Linked DNA regions of Homo sapiens. The protein of the gene in region 2 purifies or fractionates together with the protein of the main gene of each other region. This does not show direct contact. Each region holds a gene or a part of one and is shown on either strand. Other genes may lie near its edges.

Region 1 (3,812 bases), on a different chromosome or scaffold from region 2:
CTATGTATAAAGGTTAACAACAGAGCTGTATAGTTAATCCAATTTGGGATTCTCGGCACTGCAACATGGACATTTATTTTTGTTTTTAAAGCCCAAATTCATGACCACCTAGGATGTGTTAACTCATTTCATCAGTATGCCTAGGTCCTTTTACTACATGTTAGATGAGAAATCAGACAGATTTTTACATATCGGTAATGTAACAAATCAAAGGTGATTGTTGAACAACTTCCTATAATTTTATTTTTTACATATCGGTAATGTAACAAATCAAAGGTGATTGTTGAACAACTTCCTATAATTTTATCAGTAACAGCTATTCACACAAAATAGTGTTTGGGTCTGAGAGCAGCTCTTTCTTTAATGTTACTCCATTCGGCAGAACAAGAGTAAACGTTCACGGTTTACTGTAGTCAGTTATTGCCACAGATTTAATTACCAACAATCGCACATTTTACCTTCTATTGCTATTTCACACTTCACTAGGATTAAGTCTGCAGAGATCTTAACATAACTTAAAAGGCATTACAAAAGTTTTCCTTTGAAAAATGTGACTGCCTCCCGTTCCAACCAGGAAATTTGACTTTAAAATTTGTTGCTTCACAAACTTGTATTTTCCTCAACCCAATACAGAGGAAACAGATTCCCTCCACCTTCTGAGGGAGAAAGCAATCCTAACCTCCTTATAAAATGGCTTCTGTCTCTTCCAAGATGTACCCTTTGAGCTCCCTATTTTCCCTCTACAACATCCAATCAACATTTCTACTAATATTAACAGAATATTAGTAGAATAACTCCCCTTAAAGAAAAATTAATATGAATGCTGGAATCAAAACCTTCCTTAGAGAATCTTGTTAATTTCTTTTCAAGTGTAAGTGTGCCTGGATCATAAAGAAAAATCTGTTCCTTTTTTCTGCTAAGTTTAGCATAGCACGCAGCCTCACAACTGCAAAGGCTGTTTCAGGTCCTAAAAAATTCATGGGTAATAAAAATCGTAACTGTTTTTAATAGGCACTTCTGAAAACTGAACATAAGCCATTTCTCCTAAAGTAGAGCTGAGATGGTTTTCTTTTTTAATGAAAAAGATTCTATCAAATTTATTTATATTAAAATGGCTACTAAATTAGTCTTCTGGTTCTCCTTTCTAAACTTACTTTAGAATATGTGAATAGATAAACCTGCAATATTTTCACTGTTCAGCAGGGTTTTAATTTGTGTCAGATTTGCCATATGAAGAAATAGCATATAGGGGTAAGGATGGGACATTATATGGAGATCCAGACGATGAATCTACGTAGTTCAATGCAAAAAACTTATTCCGAAGGCTTTGTTATACAGTCAGAGCCACAGTTTTGATTTTTATGAGGGATGTTCCCACTTTGTTCTTCTGATATAAACTATAAGTACTTTGTTTCAACAACAACAAAAAAGGGAACTGTATCCAAATAAATCCTGACATTCAGAAACATATTCAACACTTGGAAGCTAAAAGAGTAGCAAAAAATAAAACCTGTTGGTCCTTAAAGCAGTCTCATAAACACCATATTTTGCTATTTTTAGGGAGCTGCTGTTATTGAGGTTACTTAGACCAAGGCTTTCACTCAATGGTTCTGAGTCACCATCCTAGATGGCACTGACCTCTAGGTTAATTCAGGCAATCAACATACCCACTCCAGTGAACCCTACTGAGGAGCAGTGGGAAGCGTGCTCTTTTCCAGATGTGTAGAAATTAACTTCCCATACAGCTTAAATTGGCTACAGCACTTCCAGCCTTCCAAGCCCCTTCTTGGTCTAAAACTGTATAGCTTTCAGTACAAATGCATATCCTTCATATTAAAAATGTTCTAACTGCAATTCCTGAAATTCTGTATTTAATTATGGTGGTTTTCCTCACGTTATTGTATAAGTCAATCACAAACACCCATTTAGTCATCACCTGTGCTCTACAGAGTATTAAAAATTCACTGAGCCCTGTACCATGGAGAAAAATGTATGGTAAAAAGATGAGAGGGTTAAACTAGCCTCTACACAATAAAAAGTAATAAAAATATAGAATGGTTTTTCTTTTCTTTAAACTTTCATACTTTAAGCATGACTGTTACCATTCTCAAATACATCCAGTACAGAACTGTAATACACTGGTTCAATGTGTGATGCAACATCTTACATTAACACTTCCTATCCTGGAATGCATTTATAATCAGTTGGCTCAAAGAGTTACACACAATTTTTTTAAGATCCTGATTTTATCTGCCACAGATAAAAACATTATATATTCCTATGTTTCTATACATTTATTCATTATTGTCTGGTCTAATTTCCAGCAGGAGGGTAATAAATAAATTCATTTACTCAGCCAATATTTATTGAGAGCATTCTACGAGTTAGATACTGTGCTTGAAGCTGGGATTTAATAGTGAGCAAAACAGACACAACCTCTACTCTCATATGTTTGCAGTGTACAACAGGAAGAAAATCTGTGCTCATATATAAAATTCATTTCAGAAGACCAAGACCATTTAAGGTCTTCCATTTAAGACTGGCCTGTCGCGACCAGCCTGACTAACATGTTGAAACCCCAGCTCTACTAAATGCAAAAAAAATAGCCGGGCGTGGTGGTGCATGCCTGTAATCCAAGCTACCTGGGAGGCTGAGACAGGAGAATCGCTTGTACCTGGGAGGCGGAGGTTGCAGTGAAGTGAGGTCGCGCCATTGCACTCCAGCTTGGGCAACAAGAGCAAAACTCCATCTCAAAAAAAAAAAAAAAAAGACTGGCCTAAACTTTGCCTGTTTCAATAGCGATAATTCAATCAATTAAAGGGGTTTACTAAGTCTTCCTATTTGATAATTAAGATCTAAAGAGTAAAAGACTTCAAAAACGTGTAAAATAAGAACAGGTTAACAGGAAAAAAATGTTTCTTCTAGGAACTGAAAAAAATTTCAGGATAACTATATGTAACATGAAGCAGGCACTCAAGGCCACTTGTATTACACAGACTTACAAATTATATTAAATGAGGTTATCTATGTACCACCAACAGAAATATTTAGTGAATATTCATGAAAATTAATCAATTAAAGAAAATATGTGCTTTATACCTACAAAATATATAAAAACATTAACCAAGTTAAAATGAAGTATGCTCTTGTATATCTACATAGAATACAAAGAGTAAGTTTTGAGTGTCAAACACTAACATAAATGAATTCAAAGAATGAATAAGTTAAAAGACAACAAGAAAATAATTCAAAATTTAATGTAATATTCTTATAGTGGTAGATTTCAGGGTTCACGTTTCTAAAGTTAAAATAAAAATATATAATATATAAGCATACGGAATAAATTTGGAAGACTGGCATAGTTGCCGAATATAAATCAACATAGCCCAAATTTTACTGCCATACTTTCATCTAGTCAGGTACCCACTAATTGTCTTTTTAAATGTCTCCATATTATTAATACACAAAAGTAAATAATTACATGAGCAAATGCAAGGGTACCCACTTTTATCCCTGTCAAACAAATCCTCTTCCATTAAAATGGTATCAAGCCTTGAACTAAAATTTACTTTGAAAACAATTTTACATTGATTTTCATTTCAAAATACTTATTCCTCCATAAACTAGTTAAAAATATTAGTAGATCTTTAAACTGTGAATGGATACATCTTATAATCTCCTCTAGATAGGTTTGTTTAAATGATAGAAGGAACCAGAACATTCAGTGTACTCATCAAAGCAGCGAATCAGGAATTCCTCAAATGAAATCCCTCCCTAATATCTTCCTTGTTGAAATCAACCGTCCTGGATTC
Region 2 (4,419 bases):
CTCAATATCCTTCTGTCCCCTCCCTCCATTACTCAGCTTCCTCCAGGTGCCCTGCCCAGTCCTATCCTCCAGCCTCCCATCATAGCGCAGATGGAAAGATTGAGGCCTGGGGAGACATTGGCTGACTCAAGAGCCAATTCCAAGGATTGGGGGAAGTTTGAAGGAGGGCTCCCTACTGAGCCTCAGCTGCTGTGGGGAAGGCCCTGCCCTGTTCTCCCTGCCTCAGTCCCAGGCCTTACCTGAGCTGGGGGGGTCCAAGGAGCCATAGAAGAATTCCCATTTGGCTCTAGCGATTCTCTGGGCATGAGAGGAGACTTCCCGGGGGGAGGACCAGGTATCCCCCTGAGCCAACGAGGGAGACACAGGCACCCAGAGATAAAGCCAGACATACAAGGACACAAGAATATGGGACAGAAACAGAAATTAAAACATGCATCGACAGAGATGGAGGTTCAGAGACACAGAGACAAACACAGAGGGCAAGAGAGAGGCAGATTTAGAACAGATTAAAGGATTCAGAGTGAACAGCAGACAAGCCCATGTCTGACAGGAGGCTGAGCCTTGCCCCTTCACTGGGGGCCCAGGGAGCCCAGGGGAAGTTGCATACCTGGTTCAGGAATCCAGTGTCAGCAGGTCCTCCGAAGAGTGTGGCCAGGCGCTCAGGGGGGCCCCCCAGCCCATTGGGGAGAGAGGAGTAAAGGCCATCTGCTCCAACCTGGGGTGGGGCTGGCGGCCCATGTACAAGGTTCCGGCTGCCAGGTAGGGCCGAGCCTCCTCTGGCGGGGAGTGGGTCTGATGTGGATGCTTCCAGCCGTAACTTCCGGTTGGAGCCAGGCCCAAGGGCTGGGGTGGGCCTGGGAGGAGAAACCCCACCCAGATCCCAGCTCCGACTCAAGCCCCCTGGAGCAGGTAGCCCATTCAGTGGCCTCACACTGGCCTTCTCCACAAAGCGGAAGATGACCACAGAGCTCTGGGCCCCGGGTGGGGGCTGCCCAGTGGGTGAAGAGGGTGCCCAGGGTGAGGGAGCAACACGGGGTGAGGGGGGGCCACGCAGAGGTGTACAGGGTGCTGTCACACGTCCCAGTTCCCGGCCTCGAGGACCTGGACCTGCCACTCGCCGTAGCAAGGAGCCTGTGCTGCCATACATGCTGGCTGGGGGGCTCTGGGGCACCGGGCCTTCGGGGAGCCAGCGGCGTGGGCATCGTGGTGGGGAGATGGCACAGTCGCCTTCCGAGCAGAAGCGCATGGCACCCTGGGCCATGCTGGGGCCGGGGGTCAGGCTGGGGGGGCAGGGATGGCGAGGCCAGGCGGGGAGTAAGGGGGCTGCATGCTCTTCAGACAGGCCTGTAAGAGAGGAAGGGGAGCATGGGGTGAACTGCCAAGGAGTTAGATGGATAGGACAGCAGAGATAGGGAAGGGAAAGTTGGCTAGGGCCTCTGAGTATCAGGGACCTAGCACACCCTGGTAATATGGGATCATTGATCCCACGCCTGGGGACTACTTCCATAGAGGCCTGACGAGAAAAGACTTATACACCCAGTGGGCCCCTGGCTCCTTTCCTTCTGCCTGAGGCCCTGAGCATCACCCTGGGAGGAGAGAGGAAGCAACTTCAAAGTTGAGTGAGCCCGGAGTTCTTATGGCACTTTGGAGCTACTTCTAGAATAGGGGAAGTTGGTACCCCACCCTCTGGAAAAGGGGTGTCAGCCAGCTGTCACCATCATACAGCCCTGTGACCCCTATAGTCTCTCTTATGGAGGCCCCTCACTCAGGGAAGGGAAACTCAGGCCTCCTGGAAGGAGAGGGAAGAGGAACAGGTGTTATATAGGGATGCTGAAGGGCTGAGAGGCACAGCATGGAAGTGGGGAGAAAAGCCTGAGCAGAGGCTCCTACCCCCAATATATACATACTGAGTGGGAAAGGGACATTCTTCTTTTTTTTTTTTTTTTTTGAGATGGAGTTTCGCCCCTGCTGCCCAGGCTGGAGTGGAATGGCGCTATCTCAGCTCACTGCAACCTCCGCCTCCCAAGTTCAAGTGATTCTCCTGCCTCAGACTCCTGAATAGCTTGGATTACAGGCGCTCAGCACTATGCCTGGCTAATTTTTGTATTTTTAGTAGAGATGGAGTTTCACCATGTTGTCCAGGCTAGTTTCAAACTCCTGACCTCAGGGGATCCACCCACTTTGGCCTCCCAAAGTGTTGGGATTACAGGCGTGAGCCACCGCACCCGGCCAGGGACATTCTTTTCTTCATACAGGTACAGACAGGCACCTACACACACACAAACACACACACACACACACACACACACACACGCACACACATACATAAGGACAAATATGTCAGTACACAGTTAAACACATTCATAGGCAACACCCTCTGGCACACACACAGACACACACACACACACACTGCTCAAAGACACACCCTCATGCACTCTCACAGTCATAACAAGTATGTGTGTAATGAAAAGGCACATGCTTGTTTTACACACACACCATCATCAAACAGGAACACACAAAGAGGTACCCAAATATATACACAAGCTGTCATTCTCCAGTGCACACAGAGGTCCAGGTGTATCAGACACTCACAGAGACCTACTGCTCACAGTCACATACACATACAGATGTACACATACAGATGTACACACTCAAGCAGGGACACACACCGTCCCCTCCCCCCCACCTACTGGGGTCTCTTGAGGGGAATCTGCACCCATATTCCTCTCCTCTCCCTCTCTCCCCAGGGGTAAGACAGATCCCGCCCAGGAGAGACCATAACCAGGTAAAGGGGCCTCTGGTGGCAATGCAGGGGAGGGGCAGAGGTCAGGAGTAGCAACCCTGCCAGGCAGGTTCCGGAAGCTCAACGGGGTCCCAGCGCATACCCGGTGCAGCCCCAACTCAATGCCACCTCAGTACTCACCGCTGCTCGCCCAGAGCTGAGACCGAGGAGAGACAGAGGAGAGGCTGGGCCCAGCTGAGCTGTGAAGGCAGCGCGGCTCCCGTTTGCTCCAGGCCCGCCCGCCTCTCAGTCCCTCCCCCTACCCCCTACGCGCCGCTCAGGCAACGCTAATCCCCCCCACCCCCCGCCCTCTCCCAGGGCCCAGAGCCCCGGAGGCTGCCAGCCCCCCTTGTCGCTAGGTCCCCGCTGGGCTCTCCCGCCAACCTAAGACCCGCCCCAGACAAGGAGGAGGGCGCATGGAACCCCTGGTTCTATTCCCCAGACCCTCACGTGCCCCACCCCACTTGTGTCCACGTCTCTCTCGCCCACCGCCCCTTGAGCCACACGTAAGGCCCGGCTGCACACGCGTGTCCCGCTCCAGACCCCACGCGTGTCCCTAGGAGGCTGCCACATGACCTGTTACATGCCACACGCGCTCCCGCCCCCACGAGCACGCGGCCGCGCCAAGCACACGGTATGGGTGTAGACTGGACCCGCCCCCTAAATCCAGGAGACCATCAACTATGGAAAGGAGATCTAGGGAACACCGTCTTGAACCCGCCAGGGGTTTTGAGTCTCGGACCCAGGAGATCCAACCCTGACCACCCTCCCAGGATGCAGCAGGGGGATGTTAAATCAGACTTCAGGAAGAACTTCCTTGCTGCCTGAGTTAGGTGTCGTCACGCCTGCCCAGGGGTAAGAGGTTAGACGGGATGAACTAGGGACCGGAAGACGTGGGGGACCGGCAACCCTTGTGCCCTTGGCCAGGGTAGAAGGGGGCCCTGCTATTTTAAGAAAGAGCCGCTGGAGTTACTATGGCAACTACTCTCTTTGGGAGGGCCAGGGCGGGCAGATGGTGACCTCGGAAGGAAGAAGGGGTCTGTTCGGGCAGTCAGGGGGCGCGAGGACGTGCGAGGCGGGGGCGCGCGGGGCTCACCGCGGGGAGGGGCGGCGCGGACTCCGCGTGGTGCTGAAGGGGACAGCGCCAGATTTGTCGCACTGCGCAGGCGCAGAGGCGCGAACAAAGAGGGGAGGGGGACGAGGCGCGCGGCCGGAGGTGGTGCGCGCTCACGTGGCTCTATCTTTGCAGGGGTCTGTCCTCCCAGCTACCCCCTCCCTAAGCAGGCTGAGGAAGAAGAGATAGCAAGCCCTCACCTAACTTGACCCCTTTCTTGTCTCTCCCCGCTGCTAGCTTCTCCCTTCTCGCTGCCTTGCGGGGTGGGGAAACGTGGAAGGAATTCTGGGAAAACCAGATGTCTGGGTTCTCTATTCCCGTCTGGCTTGATTCTGGACAAGGGGCTTCCTCTCCAGGGCCTCGGTTTCCCCATCTTTAAAATGGACTGATAGCATAGACCTGCCCACCTTTCAGAGGTGCCCGAAGCCTTGACGAGATAACAGATGAGAAGTGGTTTTCGTTGTGATGAGCCAGCTGAAGCGGTTGCACCGGAGCGCCAGACCGTCAGCGGTGCAGTGGCTCT

What was found.
Region 1: the proteins of PSD (region 2) and GNAQ purify together in Homo sapiens (affinity purification with western blotting, with the first as the bait; one study listed by BioGRID). This does not show direct contact.

What each region holds. Positions count from the first base shown.
Region 1 is NC_000009.12:78,025,000-78,028,811, forward strand, and holds part of GNAQ (guanine nucleotide-binding protein G(q) subunit alpha), read right to left. Parts: intron 1-3,812.
Region 2 is NC_000010.11:102,415,778-102,420,196, forward strand, and holds the start of PSD (PH and SEC7 domain-containing protein 1), read right to left. Parts: upstream 3,009-4,419; 5' UTR 2,924-3,008; intron 1,345-2,923; 5' UTR 1,262-1,344; coding exon 608-1,261; intron 343-607; coding exon 240-342; intron 1-239. UniProt on the Homo sapiens protein: Guanine nucleotide exchange factor for ARF6. Induces cytoskeletal remodeling.